Regions from separate parts of the Homo sapiens genome. Here region 2 is linked to region 1. The links come from fine-mapping of genetic effects on gene expression. Tissue or cell type: whole blood. Region 1 holds a variant in brackets; the other region holds the start of a gene. All regions are shown on one strand. Distances are between the middles of the regions.

Evidence for each region. PIP is the estimated chance that this variant, and not a neighbour inherited with it, causes the effect.
Region 2: WFIKKN1 starts here. The variant in region 1 is fine-mapped to the expression of WFIKKN1 in whole blood (INTERVAL, PIP above 0.99).

What each region holds. Positions count from the first base shown.
Region 1 is chr16:598,169-606,168 of GRCh38, forward strand. The region is part of intron 1 of RAB40C (RAB40C, member RAS oncogene family); the gene reads left to right. LOC124903618 (a long non-coding RNA gene) reads right to left here. Exons shown (of 2, transcript XR_007064934.1): 2 at 7,165-8,000. Among named protein-coding and RNA genes, the nearest start is that of RAB40C, 12 kb to the left of the region's middle. RefSeq lists an enhancer at 1,413-1,914. The variant G/GT (reference allele first, on the strand shown) is at 4,080.
Region 2 is chr16:627,380-635,379 of GRCh38, forward strand. WFIKKN1 (WAP, follistatin/kazal, immunoglobulin, kunitz and netrin domain containing 1) reads left to right here and starts at 3,606. Exons shown (of 2, transcript NM_053284.3): 1 at 3,606-4,045; 2 at 5,203-6,738. The coding sequence starts at 3,875. The coding sequence ends at 6,678. It overlaps RAB40C (RAB40C, member RAS oncogene family), which reads left to right. Exons shown (of 6, transcript NM_021168.5): 6 at 1-1,889. The coding sequence ends at 243. It overlaps METTL26 (methyltransferase like 26), which reads right to left. Exons shown (of 6, transcript NM_032366.5): 3 at 7,902-7,961; 4 at 7,510-7,577; 5 at 7,340-7,418; 6 at 7,051-7,265. The coding sequence ends at 7,218. RefSeq lists enhancers at 28-761, 2,231-2,964, 2,490-2,784, 2,965-3,699, 7,866-8,000 and a silencer at 148-398.

The sequences.
Region 1 (8,000 bases):
GGAGATCAAGACCATCCTGGCTAACATGGTGAAACCCTGTCTCTATAAAAATACAAAAAATTAGCTGGGCATGGTGGCGGGCACCTGTAGTCCCAGCTACTTGGGAGGCTGAGGTACGAGAATGGCGTGAATCCAGGAGGCAGAGCTTGCAGTGAGCCGAGATCACGCCACTGACTCCAGCCTGGGTGACAGAGCGAGACTCCACCTCAAAAAAAAAAAAAAATACAAATACAAATACAAAAATTAGCCGGGCGTGGTGGCGCATACCTGTAGCCCCAACTACTTGGGAGGCTGAGGCAGGAGAATTGCTTGAACCTGGGTGGCGGAGGTTGCAGAGAGCTGAGATTGTGCCACTGCACTCCAGCTTGGTGACAGAGCGAGACTCTGTCTCACAAAAAAAAAAAAAAAAAAAGAAAAAAGAAAATTAGCTGGGTGTGGTGGTGCACGTCTGTAGTCCCAATTACTTGGGAGGCTGAGGTGGGAAACTCACTGGAGCCTGGGAGGTGGTGGCTGCAGTGAGTCTGACTGTTGCACTACGTTCCAGCCTGGGTGACAGAGTGAGACCCTGTCTCAAAAAATAAAAAATAAAGAAAAGAGGATGGAAGAAGAGAAGAGCTGAGTCCTGGAAATGGGCAGGTACTTTACAGTTTGTACAGCGGCCGGATGTAAGAACCTCATGTCAACCCTGAGTGAAGGTGTAGGCCGGGCGGTCAAGCACAGCACTCTCCAGCAGCTCCAGCAGCGTGGGTAACCCGGTGGGAGCCTGTGTGCTGCTTTCCCTGCCCGGGGCCGGCGGCTGCTGCTGGGCTTTCGCCTGACTTCCTGGTCAGCAACGTTGTCGGCCACCTGGGCACAGCAGGTACAGCCTGTGTGTCAGACCTAGCTGGGAGGGGCGGTAATAGGGTAGATGACATCAGGATTCAGGACTCTGAACACAAACACAGTGACACTGATCAGGGTTGCCGAGGTGCTGTGTTTCGGTCCAGAAAGTCACTGCTGCAGGGGAGGGGAGTATGGTCACAGCCCAGGCCCCGGCCCCGGCCGAAGCTGCCACTGACAGGAGACCCTTCTCTGCCTGTGCCACCAGCTTTGCTCCGAGGGGTGTCTGTGTCCTCAGGCTCTGCCAAGGCAGTGTCAGGCTGATGCCTGCCCGTGTCGGCCGGCCACAGCCCTAGTGGCTGCCCGCAGAGTCTTGCGCCCACCTGATTCCTGCCTGAGAGGAGCCGCCAGGTCAGCTGATGCCAGCAGGACCCACTTCACCAGGTCAGCAAGGAGGAGGCAGCTTCCCTTGGGGCCACGCCGTGCCTCCTCCGTGTGCGCTGCTGCCATGGCTGCTTCTGTCGATAGGCATGTACGTGAAAATGCACACCCGTGGGTGTTCGCTACTGTCAGCGTGGATTCAGCAAGGTTTTGTTCCCTCGTGGCATCAGTCAGCGTGGATTCAGCAAGGTTTTGTTACCTCGTGGCATTAATCAGCGTGGATTCAGCAAGGTTTTGTTCCCTTGTGGCATCAGTCAGCGTGGATTCGCAAGGTTTTGTTCCCTCGTGGCATCAGTCAGCGTGGATTCGCAAGGTTTTGTTCCCTCGTGGCATCAGTCAGCGTGGATTCGCAAGGTTTTGTTCCCTCGTGGCATCAGTCAGCGTGGATTCGCAAGGTTTTGTTCCCTCGTGGCATCAGTCAGCGTGGATTCGCAAGGTTTTGTTCCCTCGTGGCATCAGTCAGCGTGGATTCGCAAGGTTTTGTTCCCTCGTGGCATCAGTCAGCGTGGATTCGCAAGGTTTTGTTCCCTCGTGGCATCAGTCAGCGTGGATTCGCAAGGTTTTGTTCCCTCGTGGCATCAGTCAGCGTGGATTCGCAAGGTTTTGTTCCCTCGTGGCATCAGTCAGCGTGGATTTGCAAAGTTTTGTTCCCTTGTGGCATCATACTCCTTTCCTGTTTGGTTTGGGACTCCCATGGCCCCCTTGATGTTGGAGCCTCTTCAGGTGGCACCTGCGTCCTGGGCTATGCCCTGAGTTCCCGGAGCTCCCTGTGTCCTGGAACAGTCTGTACTTCCAGCAGATGTGGGTCCTGCCTGCCCTGGAAACGGCCATCTCTCTGAAGAGCCTGTGTCCTCCTGGTGGGGAGGGATAGCTAGTATGTCAGCTTCTTAAATTACTTTATTAAAAATTGAGTATATGCAAAATAGTAGTCATAATAATAGTAATAGTAGCAAGTGCAAAGTGTAAGTAATAGAAATGGATGTCACCTAACCTGCCGAGTTTAAAACATTGTTGTTGGACTTTTTTAAAGAGCTTTGGTGCCGGATGGGCACGGTGGCTCACGCCTGTGATCCCAGCACTTTGGGAGGCCGAGGCGGGCGGATCACAAGGTCAAGAGATCAAGACCGTTCTGACCAACATGGTGAAACCCCGTCTCTACTAAAAATTCAAAAATTAGCTTGGCCTGGTGGCATGCACCTGTATTCCCAGCTACTCAGCAGGCTGAGGCAGGAGAATCGCTTGAACCTGGGGAGGCGGAGGTTGCAGTGAGCCGAGTTTGCACCACTACACTCCAGCCTGGGCGACAGAGTGAGACTCCATCTCAAAAAAATAAAAATAAGAGCTTTGGTGCCTACGTGCGTCACACAGACAGTTTAACACATAATTCATTATCAGCAAGCGGTGACTGCCCAGGTTTTGCCTGTGGGGAAACAGAAAGGTTTTGACTCCAGTCTCTGTCTTCTGAAGAGCTGGCAGTCACAACTGTGGCAGAGCCTGGTGTGTGGCAGCTGCGTGAGGCTCTCCTGGACTGCTGTGGAGGAAGGGGCCCTCTGGCACCCCAGGAGCAGCCTGCCCCTCTGTCTGCCTCTGCATTTAGACCCTTAGCCTCCTTGCAGAGCCACCTCCTGGTCATTAGCGTTAAAGCTCTTCTCTCCTGATGTAGTTTTCCTCACCGTTCAGTAAATGGGCCTGCTGCTTGTGTTTGGAACAGAGATAGAAGCTGTAGCTCCCACGTGTGTGTGGAGCTGGTTTGACTTTTAAAAAATTGTAGTACCAAAAACTATGATTTTTTGTGTGTTATCCACACCATCAAGGCTGTATCACCGAGTATCTGCTCATTCTGAAAGTGTGCATCCTTTCTGAATTGAAATGAAAGAGCAGGAGAAACCGTCTGTGTCCAGCCTGTTAGAGGTGTTACATTTGCCCTAGGTGGGCTGGGCAGAAGGCTGTTCTGCTCGGGAGCAACAGTGTCCACACGTCAGTTTCCAGAGCCCGGGTCGCCAGGATCCGGCTCAGAGTGTGAGTTTGCTCAGGTGTGTGCTGAGCACCCCTGGGTGCCAGACTCCGGGCAGGTCCCCGCCGCAGCCGCGTCAGCAGAGCAATGTGATCGTTGCTGGGACTGTTCCCCTAGTCTCAGTCAGTTCACTAGGGCCATGCATGCAGTGTTCAGACAGGAGATTCTCATGAAAAATAGAATTGTTATCCTAAAATTACATGAGAGGGAATGCTTATAAGTTTATCAAATAGTAAAACATCACAACACAGGACCGGGTGCGGTGGTGCACGCCTATAATCCCAGCTACTTGGGAAGTCAAGGCAGGCGATCCCCTGAGGCCGGGGGTTCAGACTAGGCAACGTAGCAAGGCCCTATCCCTGCAAAAAAAAGTAAAAAAAAAAAAAAAAAAAAAAAAAAAAAAGGCCGGATGCGGTGGCTCACGCCTGTAATCCCAGCACTTTGGGAGGCCGAGGTGGGTGGATCACGAGGTCAGGAGATTGGGACCATCCTGGCCAGCATGGTGAAACTCCGTCTCTACTGAAAATATAAAAGTTAGCGGGGTGTGGTGTCGGGCACCTGTAATCCCAGCTACTCAGGAGGCTGAGGCAAGAGAATCGCTTCAACCCAGGAGGCAGAGGTTGCAGTGAGCCGAGATTGCACCACTGCACTCCAGCCTGGGCAACAGCTCTCAAAACAAAACAAAAAACTACTGATTTGGAGGCACATTTAATGATTATTCAATGAAGTGTATATGCTTGATATCTTAAGTATGTAAAATAATTGTGGAATGAAATATATGACAACATTAGCAGTGGTCATCTCT[G/GT]TTTTTTTTTTTTTGGTTTTGTTTTTTTTTATTAGAGAGACAGTTTCACTCTTCCAGGCTGGAGTGCAGTGATCATAGTTCACTGCAGCCTCAAATTCCAGGGTTCTAGTGATCCTCCCGCCTCAGCCTCTCAAGTAGCTAAGACCATAGGCATGCACCACAACACCTGGCTAATTTTTTAATAAATTATTTTTTTATTTTTGAGACAAAGTCTTGCTCTTGTCCACCAGGCTGGAGTGTGATGGCACGATCTTGGCTCACTGCAACGTCTGCCTCCTGGGTTCAAGCCTCTTGCCTCAGCCCCCCGAGTAGCTGGGATTACAGGCACCTGCCACCACGCCCGGCTAGTTTTTTGGTATTTTTTTAGTAGAGATGAGGTTTCACCATGTCGGCCAGGCTGGTCTCGAGTTCCTGACCTCAAGTGATCCACCCACCTCGGCCTCCCAAAGTGCTGGGATTACAGGCGTGAGCCACTGTGCCTGGCCAATAAATTATTTTTTGTAGAATTGAGGTCTTGCCATGTTGCCTAGGCTAGTGGTCTTGAACTCCTGGGCTCAAGTGATTCTCTCACCTTGGCCTCCCAAAGTGTCGAGATGACAGGTGTTAGCCACCAAGCACAGCCAGAAATGAGTCTTAAAGTGGACATGAGATTGGGGTTTAAGCCACACTAAGCTGGATTTGTAATCATTGAAAGTAATCTGAGAGCTATGGGATCTGCTCCTTAAAAGATGGGAGAGGAGAATTTTAAGAGATAGGGTCTCACTGTGTTGCCCAGGCTGGTCTTGAACCGTGGCGCTGAAGCAATCCTCCTGCCTCAGCCTCCTGAGTAGCTGGGGCCAGACCTGTGTTTTTTGTTTTCTTAATGTTCTGTGTTTAGCCAGGTGTTCTGTGCCAAGTGTGCCTGCTCTTTGTAGACACGAGAGCCCTTTTGGCTTGTTGTGGGTTTTAAGGCGTTAAGTAAAAGCTCTAGCTTCGCAGGAAACCAGTCCACAAACTGCCCTAGAATTTCTTCTGACATTTGGCATGCTGGTGTACACAGACACATTTGAAATTTGTTAGATAACTTTTCCTTCCTTTACTGTCCTCCATCAGGCAGGCGCCGGTTTGCCTGCAGTGGGGTTGGTGGACGTGGGCTGTCCTTGTCTCAGAAGACATCCGAGGGGAGTGGTATGCCGGAAGATTGAATGCGGAGCGCCGGCCCCGCACGTGAATGACTTAGAGCCCCAGGTCTTCAGGGACAGGCAGTGCCTTCACATCTGGCTCTGATATGTGTTCAGGCTGTCTTGTAGGGTAATCCGGTCCCCTAATCCTTAGACCTCCAAATTCAAAGCAGATCAATGCCCTGTGGGTTTAATTTTTTTAAATCAATTTTATTGAGAGATGATGTCTATTTAATAAATGTACCCTCTTTGCATGTACAGTTCTATGAGTTTTGGCACATATATGTACCTATGCAGCCAGTACCCTCATCCAAATCAGGAGCACATCCACTCTCCTCCCAGAAAGCCCCTCAGGCCCTGCCGAGTCAGCCCCCAGCCCCCAGCAGTCGGCTTCCATCACATGGGCTGCTTTTTCCTGTTCCAGACATCATGGATACGAAGCAGACCCTGGTTTCTTTTGCTCAGCAGTTTTGAAACTTATTCATGATGTACAATAGTAGATTCTTCTTTTTTTGTTCCCAAGTGGTATTCCTTTGCACAAATATACCCCAGTTTGTTTATGCATTTACCTTGTTGATGCACATTTGGGTTATTTCCTGGTTTGGGGTATTACGAATAATGCTGATGTGAACGAGTTCTTCTTTTTTCTTTTTCTTTTTTTTTTTTTTGAGACTCTCGTTCTGTTGCCCCAGCTGGAGTGCAGTGGTATGATCTCAGCTCACTGCAGCCTCTACCTCTTGGGCTCAACTGATCCTCCCACCTAGCAGCTCCCTAGCAGCTGGGACTACAGGCATGTACCACCACACCCGGCTCAGAGCTAGTTCTTTTAAATTTTTTTTTTTAATTATTTTTCTTGTAAAATACAGAAAACACGTCATTTTAGCCATATGTAGGGATACAGTTCAGTGGCACTAGCACTAAACTATAACACAAATACGCACGAGGCCTTCTGAAGGTGTTTCTCTAGAATACACGTGAATCCTTCTGAAGGTGTTTCTCTAGAATACACGAGTCCTTCTGAAGGTGTTTCTCTAGAATATATGTGAGTCCTTCTGAAGGTGTTTCTCTAGAATACACGTGAGTCCTTCTGAGGGTGTTTCTCTAGAATACACGTGAGTCTTTCTGAAGGTGTTTCTCTAGAATATATGTGAGTCTTTCTGAAGGTGTTTCTCTAGAATACACGTGAGTCCTTCTGAAGGTGTTTCTCTAGAATATATGTGAGTCTTTCTGAAGGTGTTTCTGTTCCCTTAGGTAGATCTAAGAGTGGAATTGCTGTCATATATGAGTGTACGTTTTAATTTATAAGCTTGCCCAGCCTGGGCAACATAGTGAGAACTCGTTGCTATAAACATATTGAAAAATTAGCCTGGGGCTGGGTGTGGTGGCTCATGCCTGTAGTCTCAGCACTTTGGGAGGCCGAGGCAGGCAGATCACTTGAGGTCAGGAGTTTGAGACCAGCCTGGCCAACATGGTGAAACCGTATCTCTACTAAAAATACAAAGTTAGCCTGGTGTGGTGGTGGTGCTTGTGGTCCCAGTTACTTGGGAGGCTGAGGCAGGACAATCACTTGAACCCGGGAGGCGGAGGTTGGAGTGAGCTGAGATCATGCCACTGCACTCCAGCCTGGGCGACAGAGTGAGACTTTGTCTCAAAAAAATAAATAAATTAGCCTGGTGTGGTGACGCACACTTGTAATAGTCTTAGCTACTCAGGAGGCTGAGGCAGGAGGATCGTGTGAGCCCTGGAGTTGGAGGCTGCAGCGAGCCGTGATTGTTCCGCTGCACTCCAGCCTGAGCAGCACAGTGAGACCTGATCTCAAAAGAGAAAACTGTTTGCTCAAGCAGCCCCATTGTTTCATAGTCCCATCAGCAATGCATGAGAGTTCCAGGTGCTCCACATCTTTGCCAACATTTGATGTTGTCAGCTTTCCGTCTTTTAATTAATCAGCTTTATTGAGGTGTAATTTGTGTACAAAAAAACCCCTTTAAAGTCTGCAATACAGTGAGTGCGGACAGGCATGCCGGCCTGAGAAAGCATCAGCCCTCGCAGCCTCGCCCTCTGCAGGCCTCTCACACTCTGCCCCCGGCCTGGCATGTCACTGTGGACTCATCTGCCTTGTCTAGTTTTCACGTCAATGGAGCCACACAGGGCAAACTCTCCTGTGTCCGGCTGCCTTCTTTCCATGTCTTCTGGGTGAGCTTCGGCCACGTGGTTGAGTGCAGTTGCTCCCTCCTTCCCCGCGCCGAGTGGTCTCCCGTGTGTCAAGGCTGCAGTGCATTGGCTCCACTCCAGATGGGCTTTGGGATGGTTTCCATGTTGGGTGACTCTCACAGGGCTCCTGTGAGGAGTCTCAGACGCGTTTGGTCAACACAGGTGCCCATTGCTGTTGGGACGTACTGAGGAGTGGAAGCTGGGCTGTAGGGCCTGTGTAGATGCTGCCAACCCGTTCTCCAAAGCAGTCACACAGTTTCTGTCCCACAGGAGAGAGGGAGAGTCCTGTTTGTTCTAAGTCCTGCCTTCCTTTTAGCCATGCTGATGGCTGCAAGCTTGTTTCTTTGTAATAGCCATAGAACATTTCTATTCTGTCAGTAACCATTCCCCAGTGGGTGGATTTTTAGTTTGGATTCAGTTTATTTATAATAAATACAGGGCCGCAATAGATGGCCTTTCTACTCCTTTTCTGTTATTGCTGACACATAGTCCTCTCGGTCCTCAGTCCAGTGTGGGTTTCCCTGGGCTGAAGTCAAGGTGTTGGCTGACA
Region 2 (8,000 bases), 29 kb after region 1:
TCCTGCACCCCCGTGCACCTCATCGACAAGCTTCCACTGCCCGTCACCATCAAGAGCCACCTCAAGTCCTTCTCGATGGCCAACGGCATGAACGCGGTCATGATGCACGGCCGTTCCTACTCCCTGGCCAGCGGGGCCGGGGGCGGCGGCAGCAAGGGCAACAGCCTCAAGAGGTCCAAGTCCATCCGTCCACCCCAGAGCCCCCCCCAGAACTGCTCGCGGAGTAACTGCAAGATCTCCTAGCGGGGATGGGCGGGGCCGCCTGTGCAGATGCCAGGAGGGCTCGAGCTGGACACTCCTGGCTGGACGCCAGGCCAGTGCCGCCTACGTGGAGACTGTCCACACAGCTGCCTCAGAAGCGCCGGGCTTTCCTCACACCTGAGCCGGGTGCGAGGAGGAGCATGCACGGACCAAGCGCGGCAGGCGGGAGGAGGGGGCGCGGCTGGGCTGCTGGTGCTTCCGGGAATCTTGGTCGGAAACAAGCCGGGCCTCCCCAGCTGCCTGGGCTTGACCGGCGGGGAGCCTGGTTGGCCTTTCTTATTTATATAGAGAACACTTCACTTTTTTGTACATTTTTAAGGGGCCTTCAGGGAAGCCTGGGTGTGGCCCGGTGGTGGTGCACTGGTGACTTCATGGCCACGCCAGCTGCGGGGACGCACTTGGGACTCCTCGAGAGGGGACTCGCGGCCGCGATGGCAAGGCATCCTGTGAATTCATGCGCTGCGAGTGGCGGGGCTGCCCAGAGGCCGGGGGAGCAGACAGGGCCGGTGCTCCCTCTGGAAGCTTGGGTGACCGGGGCCCTGGCTCCCACGGGATGGAGGGTGTGGTCCTGTGGTCAGAGCCCAAGCAGCACTCAGGAGAGGGGAGAAAGGAGGTGCACCTGGCAGCCCACATTTTTGTTGCTCCCCAAATCCCTCCCCACGTGGGGATGAGAACCTTCCTGCTGTGATGTGACACCTTCGGGGACATTGACCACTCAAAACTCAGATCATCTCGCCCACCCTGGAGAGTGCAGAGCTATCTGTAGACTTAGGAATACTTGATGGGCAGCGGTGCAGACCCCGGGCACCTGCGTGCAGCCTCCTGTTCTCGGCAGCTTCTGTCGCTGGCCCTGGGGTCCCCACAGCTGCAGCTCTCCTGTGAGGTTGCACGGCATCAGAACCATCCTGACCTTCTTAGGGACGTGCCTGGAACCACCTCGTCCACGTCCACGTCCACCTGGGGGCCTCGGGAGGCTAGGCCCCTCCTCAAAGGCCCACCAGCCCGGCGCTCATGCTGAGCCCCAGGCACGCAGGGCCGGCCACCTCTCTCCTGAAGCCATTGGCCGCTCCTCCACCCAGTGCTTCTGCCCATGCCTGCCCCAGCAGCCCCTCTGCACGGTCACCATCGCCTGGGCCTGCCCACAGCACTGGTGCTCACCTCTACCTCCTGTCCTCAGGCCGTGCGGCACGACATGGCCAGCACGCAGAAGGAGCCCTCCCGGGACCCAGGACCCCCCGTGGTGGACTCCGCGGCACATGCTTCCCAAGGTGGTCCCACGGAGGGTGTTACTGGGCACCAGTGGACTCGCCCCATGGCCCGTTCCTGGGAGATGAGGGCCGTGGCCTGCATGAACTACCAGATGAGTAAGGGAACCCCAGGCAGGCGGCCCTGCCACAGCCCCCAAAGACACTGGCCTCCTGCTCCAGCTTCCCTGTCCTGGCCCCACCTGTCCTGTTGCTGCCAGCAGGGCCCTTGTTTGGGATTATGAACAAACCTCACAGACTTTGAGGACCTGGATGGTCCTGCATTCACGGCATCAACACTACCCGCGCTGCTGTTAGACACTCCGCCATTCCTGGTTCTCTCCGAACCGTTCTTTGTACAGTAAATGTAATTCAGCTGTGGTCCCCACGTTTTGCTGTGTCTGGTGGGGTGGGTCTGGCAGTGGCGGTGCCCCGTGCCAGGGGCCAGTGCTGCTTCATACCCGGCAAACTGACCTCTGGCCTTTGTTTTGCCTGCTGTTCCCTGCGCTGACCGGGCTGACCTGCCGCGGTTGGCTGGGTTCGCCTCAAAGTGAGGGCTGGAGCTGGGCTGGAGCAGCTGGGCCTGGTCACGGCCATTCTCCTCTTCCCGGTGGATGGAATCCCAGCTGGGCTGTGCTGAGCCCTCGCTCACAGTCCCCGGCAGCAGATGGCCTGGGGCGGACTGTCCCCAACAGCAGCAGGACTCCAGAGGGCCAGGTCCTCCAGTCAGTCGGCCCGCTCAGCAGAGCCGCCTGCACGCTGGCCAATCTGGTGTCTGCTATGCCCGGCCCAGGGGGGTGTGGACGCCCCGGAGGTCACAGCTGAGCTGGAACGGGGCACTCCAGTTGGTACAGGGACCAGACCACAGCCTCTGGCTCAGGTGCCTCCCTGTGCTGTTTCGTGGGCATGTCCGGGCCTTAAGCCCCTCCCTGGCAGCTCCAGCCCAGCCGCCTGCTGCTGGGTCTGGCCTAGCTACCCCCACCCCCACGCTATCAGGGCCCACCCCCAGTCTCCTTGTAGAGCAGGGACTGGCGCCTGGAGCCGTCTCCGGGTCTCATTCTGACCAGACCAGGCTCCTGTTACCCTGCCTCCTGGGTCAGAGGTCAGACACAGGGTCAGGGGGACACTCCCATCCGGTCTCAAGAGAACCACTCCCTGAGGCCCCAGACATCTGGAGCCACAGAGGGTTTGGAAGGGTAGATTCCAGGCAGCCTTTTGTCCTGCTGCACCAGGCAGGCCAGCCCCCTGCCCTCCCCAACGAAGAGGAGCCAGCCTGGGGATGTGTGCCCCGCCGACGGGGGGCTGGGGCAGGGCAAGGCTCTGGTGCCCTGGGACACTTGCTCTTTTCAGCTGCAGACGCCCTTGCACTTGGCCTTCCCTCGGGCGGTGCCATCCCACGCGGAGCCACGTCCAGGGCTACACGGTGCGTGGGCCGAGGCTCCGGCATCAGCGTTTCGGGCTGTTCTTATGCTTGTGGTGGCCACAGGCCTCTTCCTGCTGCACCTGCCCCGCCTTGGGGACAGGCCTGAGCCCCAAGCCCGCTGCCTGGTTTCAGGGATGGGGTCTCTGGGAATGCAGTCCTGCCGGGTTGGGCCCCACTCCAACAGGGGCAGCAGAGCAGAGGAGGCCGGGCTGTGCTGGGCGTCCTGCAGACCCCTGTGCCCCTGAAACAGCCATGGAGGGGGGAAGGAACCTCGGAGCGGAGTGAAGCCCTCGGCCGCACGTGACCGTTGCCAGCCTGGACCTGGCCCGGGGGACCCAGGCTGTGGTCAGCCACGCTCTGCGGGGAGGGCCCGTGCCTGCCACCCCCATGGCATAGGAGCCTGGGGTCCAGAGGGCGCCAGGGACAAAAGCTGGGATCTGCTGGCCCTGCCCCCACCCTACTGAGGGTCGTCAAGGAGATTGATCTCAGCCCAGGGGTGGACGAAGGGGTTCAGGTTACAGGGTCCCCTCCCCTCCCCCTCTCCAGCCAGAGCCAGCCCTTCCCCGCCCCGGTGACCCTCATGGCCAGTGGCTCTGTGCTCATGGGCCTCTGGCCCCTCCCCAACCTCCTCCCCTCTGCCCTGTGCTGACCAGGGCCTGGGAGCCCCCGCACGGTTCAGACAGAGGGGCCAGGCTGAAGCTGGAGAGGAACCAGCGTCACACAGACGGCCTCTGAGAACTTGGAGACCCCGTTACCCACCCAGCAGGGGTGTCAGGACAAGCATCTGCTGCAGGCTTCAGCCTCAGGGGCAAAAGGGAGCCCCGGGGTCCTGGTGGGGGCACCGACCACAGGCCCGGAGGGTGGATGCCTGCAGGAAGCTGGGCTCTGTGGAGCCCGAGGAGGGGCTGGTGGCCACACCCCCCGGCCCCCTGGCTCGGCGGCCCTCATGCCCGCCCTACGTCCACTCCTGCCGCTCCTGCTCCTCCTCCGGCTGACCTCGGGGGCTGGCTTGCTGCCAGGGCTGGGGAGCCACCCGGGCGTGTGCCCCAACCAGCTCAGCCCCAACCTGTGGGTGGACGCCCAGAGCACCTGTGAGCGCGAGTGTAGCAGGGACCAGGTGAGTGTGGTCGGGCCGGGGTCCTGGGGCTCAGAGCAGCCAGCCTGGGCAAGACCCTGCTGGAGGTGCCACCTTCTGCCTGGGCTCCCCAGACTTCTGGGGGGTCTGGGTCTGGGCCCCTTAAGGGGCCCAGAGACACCCCCATCGTTGCCCTCATTTGTCTTAAGAATAAGAGCCCTCCCCACTCCAGCTTTCATGCTCCCCATGTGCCTCCACCCTGGGGCACCATCATCCTCGGCGACCACCCCCACCCCGTCACTGCCTCTCCTCCCACCCTCTCCTCCCACCCTCTCCTCCCATCCACTTCTCCCACCCCTTCACTGCCTCTCCTTCCATCCTCTCCTCCCACCCTCTCCTCCCATCCACTCCTCCCATCCACTTCTTCCATCCTCTTCTCCCACCCCGTCACTGCCTCTCCTTCCATCCTCTCCTATCCACTCCTCCCATCCACTTCTTCCATCCTCTTCTCCCACCCCATCACTGCCTCTCCTTCCATCCTCTCCTATCCACTCCTCCCATCCACTTTTTCCATCCTCTTCTCTCACCCCGTCATTGCCTCTCCTTCCATCCTCTCCTCCCATCCACTTCTCCCACCCCTTCACTGCCTCTCCTCCCACCCTCTCCTCCCATCCACTCCTCCCATCCACTCCTCCCATCCACTTCTTCCATCCTCTTCTCCCACCCCGTCACTGCCTCTCCTTCCATCCTCTCCTCCCACCCTCTCCTTCCATCCTCTCCTCCCACCCTCTCCTTCCATCCACTGTCCTCCCTGTCCTCCCACCCTCCTTCCATCCGGGACCAGTGCAGATGGTGGTGGGGGTGCTGCAGCCGATGTCCAGCCTTTGTCCTGGCCCGCACCACCTGCTGGGTGGTCCTGAGCACTGTACGCCCTCCTTGGGCCTCAGTTTCCTCGTCTGTACAACGTAAAGAATAACGGAACTTGCTTGTGGGTGTGAGGATTCTGGAAGGTAAGCCAGGTGGCACCTCTGGCGAGGTGGCTCCTCACACAGGATGGAAAGGACACTGAGTCCCCGGGGAGGCAGCCACAGAGCGGGGGGCTCCCTGCTACCCCACCTGGGCCTCCCCTTGCAGGGGCCAGGCCAGAGCCCCGGGGCGGGGGGCATTGGGGCTCCCACCTAAGTGTCCCCCATCCCCAGGACTGTGCGGCTGCTGAGAAGTGCTGCATCAACGTGTGTGGACTGCACAGCTGCGTGGCAGCACGCTTCCCCGGCAGCCCAGCTGCGCCGACGACAGCGGCCTCCTGCGAGGGCTTTGTGTGCCCACAGCAGGGCTCGGACTGCGACATCTGGGACGGGCAGCCCGTGTGCCGCTGCCGCGACCGCTGTGAGAAGGAGCCCAGCTTCACCTGCGCCTCGGACGGCCTCACCTACTACAACCGCTGCTATATGGACGCCGAGGCCTGCCTGCGGGGCCTGCACCTCCACATCGTGCCCTGCAAGCACGTGCTCAGCTGGCCGCCCAGCAGCCCGGGGCCGCCGGAGACCACTGCCCGCCCCACACCTGGGGCCGCGCCCGTGCCTCCTGCCCTGTACAGCAGCCCCTCCCCACAGGCGGTGCAGGTTGGGGGTACGGCCAGCCTCCACTGCGACGTCAGCGGCCGCCCGCCGCCTGCTGTGACCTGGGAGAAGCAGAGTCACCAGCGAGAGAACCTGATCATGCGCCCTGATCAGATGTATGGCAACGTGGTGGTCACCAGCATCGGGCAGCTGGTGCTCTACAACGCGCGGCCCGAAGACGCCGGCCTGTACACCTGCACCGCGCGCAACGCTGCTGGGCTGCTGCGGGCTGACTTCCCACTCTCTGTGGTCCAGCGAGAGCCGGCCAGGGACGCAGCCCCCAGCATCCCAGCCCCGGCCGAGTGCCTGCCGGATGTGCAGGCCTGCACGGGCCCCACTTCCCCACACCTTGTCCTCTGGCACTACGACCCGCAGCGGGGCGGCTGCATGACCTTCCCGGCCCGTGGCTGTGATGGGGCGGCCCGCGGCTTTGAGACCTACGAGGCATGCCAGCAGGCCTGTGCCCGCGGCCCCGGCGACGCCTGCGTGCTGCCTGCCGTGCAGGGCCCCTGCCGGGGCTGGGAGCCGCGCTGGGCCTACAGCCCGCTGCTGCAGCAGTGCCATCCCTTCGTGTACGGTGGCTGCGAGGGCAACGGCAACAACTTCCACAGCCGCGAGAGCTGCGAGGATGCCTGCCCCGTGCCGCGCACACCGCCCTGCCGCGCCTGCCGCCTCCGGAGCAAGCTGGCGCTGAGCCTGTGCCGCAGCGACTTCGCCATCGTGGGGCGGCTCACGGAGGTGCTGGAGGAGCCCGAGGCCGCCGGCGGCATCGCCCGCGTGGCGCTCGAGGACGTGCTCAAGGATGACAAGATGGGCCTCAAGTTCTTGGGCACCAAGTACCTGGAGGTGACGCTGAGTGGCATGGACTGGGCCTGCCCCTGCCCCAACATGACGGCGGGCGACGGGCCGCTGGTCATCATGGGTGAGGTGCGCGATGGCGTGGCCGTGCTGGACGCCGGCAGCTACGTCCGCGCCGCCAGCGAGAAGCGCGTCAAGAAGATCTTGGAGCTGCTGGAGAAGCAGGCCTGCGAGCTGCTCAACCGCTTCCAGGACTAGCCCCCGCAGGGGCCTGCGCCACCCCGTCCTGGTGAATAAACGCACTCCCTGTGCCTCAGACCTCCTGGCTTGCTGCTGCTGGTCGGGCGACCCTCATCCTTCCAGGTGCCCCATGCCCAGCCAGTTTCCGCTGGGGCCTTGACACCCACTGGGGCTTGGGCTTTGGTACAAGGTCACCAGGGAGTGCCTGTCCGCCCCTGCATCCCCAACCAGCTCCATCCTGCCTCAGCAGCTGTCTCGGCCCCAATCCCACTGCCCGAGCTCCAGCAGCAAGGATCAGGACGTCCCAAGCCCTTGACCCCACAGGAGACCCCGTCTCCCACCCAACCTCACAAGGTGCTCCTAGGAGGAGGTGGGGCAGACACCAGCAAGCCGGCAGCAGGACATGCTTTATTCTGAGCAGGCTGGGCCCTTCGGCCAGCGGCTGAGAGCACAGACTGGGTGGGGCTGTCGTCCACAAGGTCCGGCCTAGGGAGGCAGGGTTCGTGCCTCACAGAGCCTCCGGCAGGGATGCAGGTGTGCGGGGGTGAAGGAGGGGCTTAGTTTTTCCGGAAGATCAGGCATTTGTTGTTGGCTGGCATGTCCACCTGGAGAAACACTTTGCTGGAGGACGGCCCTCAACCCCTAGAGAGGTTGCCTGGGCCCCCGCTCCCCCACCTACCATCCTCTCCAGGAGCAGGCCACTGGCCTTTCCCAGGTCCTCCAGGAGGGCTGTGTCCCGAAGCCCCCATTCTGGGTTCCTGCAGAGGGTGGGGAGATGGAGTCATGGCCTGGGGGGTGCCACCCAAGCCACCTGCCACCTGAGCCAGACCCCCCGCCTCTAGCTCTGACCTGCATCTGAGCATCAGGTCAAAGTCCACGTTGCTCTGGGGGGAGATCTTCCCATTGATGGCATAGGGCTGTGGGCATGGGGACACAGCCCACTGGACCAAGGTCGGGGTATTTCCCAGAGAGCCTGGGACAGACTTGCAGGCTGGGGTTTGGAGAATGAAAGGGCACCCCCTCCCTGTCCCCAAGAGGGAGTCAGCCAAGGCCAGCCTGGTGGGCAAGGGGGTAGGGAGGCTGGCAGATGACCCAGGGAGGGGTACAGACTGGAAGTGGAGGGGAGGCCGTGCTGGTGGCTGGGCGGGGGGCAGGGAGCCCAGGAGGGAGGACTCTCAGCAGGGCAGGAGACAGCAGCTAGGACTGGGAGCGGGAGGCCCGCCGTGGACAGGCCCACTCACCCCGTAGGTGATGAGCAGGGCCCTGGGTTTGAGCAGGTGTCCTGCTGCTCTGAAGAGCCCCTGGTGAGTAGGAACAGGACGGCAGTGAGGTGCTGCCCC